2 separate regions of the Homo sapiens genome follow, and region 2 is linked to region 1. The links come from fine-mapping of genetic effects on gene expression. A gene starts in region 1. The other region holds a variant in brackets. All regions are shown on one strand. Distances are from middle to middle. Region 1 holds the start of RALA (RAS like proto-oncogene A). Region 2 has its middle 27 kb from the start of YAE1.

Evidence for each region. PIP is the estimated chance that this variant, and not a neighbour inherited with it, causes the effect.
Region 2: its variant is fine-mapped to the expression of RALA in whole blood (TOPMed, PIP above 0.99).

The regions. Positions count from the first base shown.
Region 1 is chr7:39,622,001-39,624,914 of GRCh38, reverse strand. It overlaps RALA (RAS like proto-oncogene A), which reads right to left and starts at 1,343. Exons shown (of 5, transcript NM_005402.4): 1 at 1,090-1,343. It overlaps LOC107986785 (a long non-coding RNA gene), which reads left to right and starts at 1,438. Exons shown (of 2, transcript XR_001745175.2): 1 at 1,438-2,482. RefSeq lists silencers at 140-189, 784-1,293 and an enhancer at 620-1,467.
Region 2 is chr7:39,591,625-39,594,538 of GRCh38, reverse strand. It overlaps a transcript of YAE1 not described here. Among named protein-coding and RNA genes, the nearest start is that of YAE1, 27 kb to the right of the region's middle. The variant C/T (reference allele first, on the strand shown) is at 1,654.

The DNA.
Region 1 (2,914 bases):
TAAGACACACTGAAATACATTAATAAACATACTGTAAGAGTTTACCAATGAAATCTGTTATCCAATTTCTGGAATATGATTAAAGTTGCAATTTACTTTCTGGAAAAGAATTAACTTATGATACATGTTTTATAAAGGTTGTTCCCCCCCCACACCACACAATTTGTAAATTAGGTGCTTTTCAGCTTGACACGTAGGGCGTGGCACGGGACTTCTCACACTACCTCAGCCACACTTGGATGAGCTCTTACAAGTCTGGACATTCAGGTTTCCGAGCACAGGCCAGTTAACTCCCTAATTCTCCCTAAATCCTGAAACAACACTGCCACCCCTGTGTGCCGTCACCCCCGTCTACTTAAACACATATATCCAGGCTAAAGCATGCCAATCACATCTTCCACTTCTGGAAATCTTTCAGAAACGAACCACAGAGGAAACACCTCTCTCCCAAAATGTATTCTCTTCCTCATATTAGAAGCTAGATTACCTGAAAATGGGCTAAAGCTGTGCAAGCGCCCAAGGCCAGGTATTCAGTTCAGTGCGGAGAGTCTAATGACTTTAAGTCTGAAAAACCATTCCTTTAACTGGCAAAAAAAAAAAAAAACACAAACAAACAAAACAAACAAACAAAAAACCCTGGCGGAGATGCTTAAAAAGCAGCGGCTCTAGCACAGGCAAGGAGTGGAAAGAAAGGGAAGGAGGGGAGAGGGGTGGAGTGAGGCGCGGGGACTGCGGCGGCAGCGGGTTGCCCCAGGTCGCGGGCACCGCCCGGGCGGGAACTTGGGCGCCGTGGACGAAAGGTGCGGGGTGACCTTCGGACGAGGCCAACTGAGACCGGCTGCCGGGCGCAGGGGACCTCTCCGCAGCCGCTCACTCTCGGGGGCTCACTCGCCCCACAGCGGCGAACGCGGTGCCCCGGATTCCAGCCGGGCTCATCTCGCAGCTCGTCCCCGGGCAGAACGTGGGATGTGCAATCTCGGCAGCCCGAACCCGCGTCAGGGCCTCGGCCCGCCGCCGCCCGGACACACCCCCGCCGCCGCCCGGGTGGCCCCAGTCCCTCCCCGGGCGGCCCGAGCGGGCATCGCTCACCTGCACCGCGAGCCAGTCCGCCGCCCCGAGGGCTCCGGAAGCCGCGGCTGCGTGGCTCCGGCCGGAGGGTACTCGGTCCTTGTCGCCTGGAAGGCCCCGCGCCGGGAGCGGTCGAAGGAGGAGTCTGACGGGTGGCGGGGGAGCCTGGGCGGCTGGAGGAGGAGGAGGAGGAGGAGGAGAAGGAGGAGGAGGACTCCGACGCTTTGCTCTGGGGAGATCCACCCTCCTCCTGGCGGCTCTGCAGCAGCCGCCACAGATCACTTCCGGGGCGCTGGGGAGCGGGGCGGGGCAGCTGGGGAGCGACTTCCTGTCCGTGGGCTGAGAGGAGGGTGATCATGGGCCTGGGCCGCAGAACAGTGGCTCGGAGGGCGCAGGCTGCCCGGCCTCCGCCCCCTGCAAGCTGAGGGCTGTCCGCGCTGTCTTTCCGACGGCCCCACCCCCGGCTCTCTGAGCTCCGCGAGGTGAAGTCATCTCCCGGGGGCTCGGGAGTGGCCGCGGGCCTCGCGGAGGTTCCCGGATCTCGGCGTCGTTGCCGCGGTGTCCTTGTCTTTCTTTTGGGGACCAGGAGGGGGTTCTTGGGGGAAGGAGGGGAGAGCGGAGGCCGCCATCTTGCTTCTAGAGGGTCAGCTCATGTTCCCTGGGCGTCTCAGGGTTGAGGCCGCTCGTGTGGCGTGGCCGGGGGTATTCAGAGCGGAGCTGGCGACGTGGCTTGTCACGGGCCAAATCCCAGGAGGCGGGTCAGCCGCCTACCCTGGCTGGAGGGTCTCGTGGCTGCCCTGGGCCTCATCTAACTGCTGATCCCCTGGAGAATTCGCTTTCTCGGACGGTCTGCGAGTTCTTTCTGAGGGGTGTCGGACCCCCCTGCGACTCTGCAGGTGTCGGTGTGGCACTGAGATCATCTTGCGGCCCCATGGCACTGTGATTTGGTAGCTTGTGAGAAGTAGTTTCACTAAATCCGTAAATTTAAGTTAGCAGCTACAGATTCTTATGTCTTGACATTTATTCGCTTATCTCTCTTTGCTCCCCACAAATTGAGTACCAACTATATTCCTGGTATGAGCCATTCAAGGAATGTCCAGTCTAGTGGGCAGACATACATGAAAGCAAATCATTGCTATTGGAAGTATGGTTTATCAAGATGTACAGCGTGAAGAATGGATAGCTTTACTAACGTAGGTTAGAGTTTTAAAGATAAATAGGCATTTTCTACTACAAAAATAGGGGTGGGATGGCAAATCCGGATCCGAACAGAAAGGAGATGCAGCACGGGGACAAATAATTTGTTGAGAAGAATGAGTAATAATTACAGGTCTTGAAGTTCAAACTTAGGTTGCTGAAGAAGATGAGGCTGGAGAAGAAAACAGGAGCCAAATCACGAATCGTCTATGCCTTGGTGAGGCAATGAGTGGACAGATTACAATTTAAGCTATTCTTCTGTTGGTAGAGAACAGATAACTTGGGGGGGTGGAGGTGGGGGGGCAGAGAAGGATAAGCAGAGAGCCCACAAGGGGGCCATTGCAGAAGCCAGTAAGAGAAAACTTAAGGACCCTGTGTGAATGGTAGTGAGCATCCAAAGGAGATGGATTCCTAAAATATTCAAGAGGCCATATCAACTGGTAATTGGTTGCTAGGGGCAGCTGCCAGATAGGAGAATGGAAGAGGCAATGATGATGCCTTGTTTTGCTTTGAGGGAGGGGCAGGATAAGGGTGTATTTTACTAAATAAGATAAGGAAGAGTTAGGATGAGTCCTGGGAGGGGACATTTTTGCAGAAAAAAAATGAGTTCAGTTTTGGAGTTGATGAGTGAAGTAAGAGTGGTGCTGTC
Region 2 (2,914 bases), 30 kb after region 1:
AACTCTGAACAAAGCAATAAAAAAAAAATGAAGGCATTGAGAAGGGACCAAAGTAGGCAGAAAATGGAAAGGAATCAAATTTAGAGGAAAAGAAAGGCATTGGGTGAGTTTTTCCATTTCTTATGACTCTTTACCTGAGGGTGGGCTCCAGCAAGGCTTGCACCGGGTAGCTAATACTCACAGACTCATAATCATACAGGTTATGTATTAAGAGTCAGAGTTTGGAGCAACCACAGCTGGAATGTGAGGGAGAAGATTCTAGAAAGGAGAAAGCCACAGATGAGGAGCCCCAGTTTGTGAATATAAAATCTACTTGGAAATCTGGCTGATTCCTGCACTATCCCTGTGCAGGGCAGAACCTGAGAAGCCCATACATGGCTAAAAGAATGGAACAAAGATTTCAGCTACTGCCCAACATAGAGGGGGTAGAGTTTGGAGTTTGAGTTCTGAAAAGTTATCTGTCTACTACAACAAAAATTAATACTCTTGAGAAGAACATAACAGAGTTCAGAGTTTCTCCAATTTATCATTCACTGACCATGTCCAGGATACAACCCCAAATTACTAGACATAAGAAGAAACAGGAAAATGTGATCAACCAACACTCTAAGGAAAAGACAATCACTAGAGACCAACCACAGAATGCTTCATATATTGTAATTAGCAAAGATTTTAAGGCAGTTATCGTAACTATACCTAAGGATGTAAAAGAAAACATAATTTAAATGAATGAACATATAGGAAATCTCAGCAGAGAAACAAACCGTAAAGAAATAACCAGGCTGGATGCGGTGGCTCATGCCTGTAATTTCCAGTATTTTGGGCGGCTGGGGTGGGCAGATTGCTTAAGCTCAGAAGTTTGAGACCAGACTGGGCAATGTGGCAAAACCCTGTCTCTTTAGATACAAAAAATTAGCTGGCCATGGTGGTGCGTGACTGTAGTCCCAGCTACTTGGGGGCTGAGGCAGGAGGATTTCTTGCACCCATAAAAGGCCAGGCACAGTGGCTCATGCCTGTAAACCCAGCACCTTGAGAGGCCAGGGCAGGCGGATCACTTGAGGCCAGGAGTTCAAGACCAGACTGCCCTACATGGTGAAACTCCATCTCTACTAAAAATACAAAAATTAGCTGGGCGTGGTGGCACTGGCCTACATGGTAAAACCCCATCTCTACTAAAAATACAACAATTAGCTGGGCATGGTGGCAGGCACCTGCAATTCCAGCTACTCGGAAGGCTGAGGCACATGAATAACTCGAACCCAGGACTTAGAGGTGGCAGTGAGCCAAGATTGTGCCACTGCACTGCAGCCTGGGTGACAAAGCGAGACTCTGTCTCAAAAAAAAAAAAAAAAAAAAAAAAAGAAATAACCAAATGGAAATTATAGAGCTAGATATTAAAGTATCTGATATTTAAAAATTCACTAGATAGGCTTAACTGTAGATTGGAGATAAAAGGAGAAAGAACTAGTACCCTTGAAAATAGATCAATAGAAATTATCCAATCTGAAAAAAACAGAGAAGAAAGCCTGGGAGAAAATGAGCAGAGTCCCAGTGACTTGTTAAACAGCATTAAGAGGTTTAAATATGTGTAACTGGAGTCCCAGTAGAGAGAGAATGACCAAAAATTTAAAGAAATAATGGCCAAAGTGTTTC[C/T]GAATTTGGTGAAATATATGATTTTGGCAAGCTCTAAGCAGGATAAGTGCAAAGAGAACTACATCTAGGCACGTTGTAATGAAACTACTGAAAACAAAAGTAAAAAAGTATTTAAAAGAGCCAGAAAAAGCAGCACATTGTAGACAGGATAACAATGACACATAAACAGCTGACTTCTTACTAGAAGCCACAAGGTAATGAATCATATGTTTAAAGCACTAAAAGGATAAAACTTAGAATTCTGTATCTATTTCATATCTAGTAAAATTACATATGGTTGCCTACATATGATGCTTCAACTTGTGATTTTTTGACTTTACTACGGCTTTATTGGGTGGTAGTATGTGCATTTTTGACTTGTGATATTTTTGATTTGTAATGGGTTTGCCATGGGTTAAATCCATCACAGATAAATTTATCATGGGTTTATAACGCCATGGTAAGTTGAGGAGCATCTGTATCTCACATTTTACATATAGCAAAAATATCCCTAAGGAAATGCCAATTAAAACAGTGAATTACTACTACAAATAGATGACACTAAATACTGATGAGGATATGAAGCCACAGGAACTTTCATTTATTGCTTGTAAGAATGCAAAATGGTAGAGCAACTCTGGAAGATAGTTTGGTGGTTTCTTTAAGGACTAAACATACTCTTACCATATGATCCAGCAATTGTACTTTTTGATATTTACCCAAAGGAGTTGAAAACTATGTTCATGCAAAAACATGCACAAAGATGTTTATTGCAGCTTTACTCATAATTGCTGAAAACTGGAAGAAACCAAGAAGTCCTTTAGTAGGTGAATGGATAAAATGACTGTGAAATATCAACTATGAAATATTCAGTGCTAAAAAGAAATGAGCTATCAAGCCATATAAAGATATGGAGAAAACTTAAATGCATATTGCCAAGTGAAAGAAGCTAATCTGAAAAGGCTACATAATGTATGATTCCAACTACAGTATGTGACATTCCGGAAAAGGCAAAAATACATAAGTGTAAAAAGATCAGTGGTTGCCAGGAATTAGGTAGGGAGAGAGGGATGAATAGGTAGAACACAGAGCATTTTTTAGGGCAGTGGAAATACTCTGTGTGATACTATAATGGTAGATACATGTCATTATACATTTGTCAAAACCTATAGAATGTACAACACCAAGTGAATGCTAATGTAAACTGTGGACTGTCGGAGATAATAACGTATCAATGTAAGTTTGGTAATTGTAACATATGTACCAATCCGGTGGTGGACGT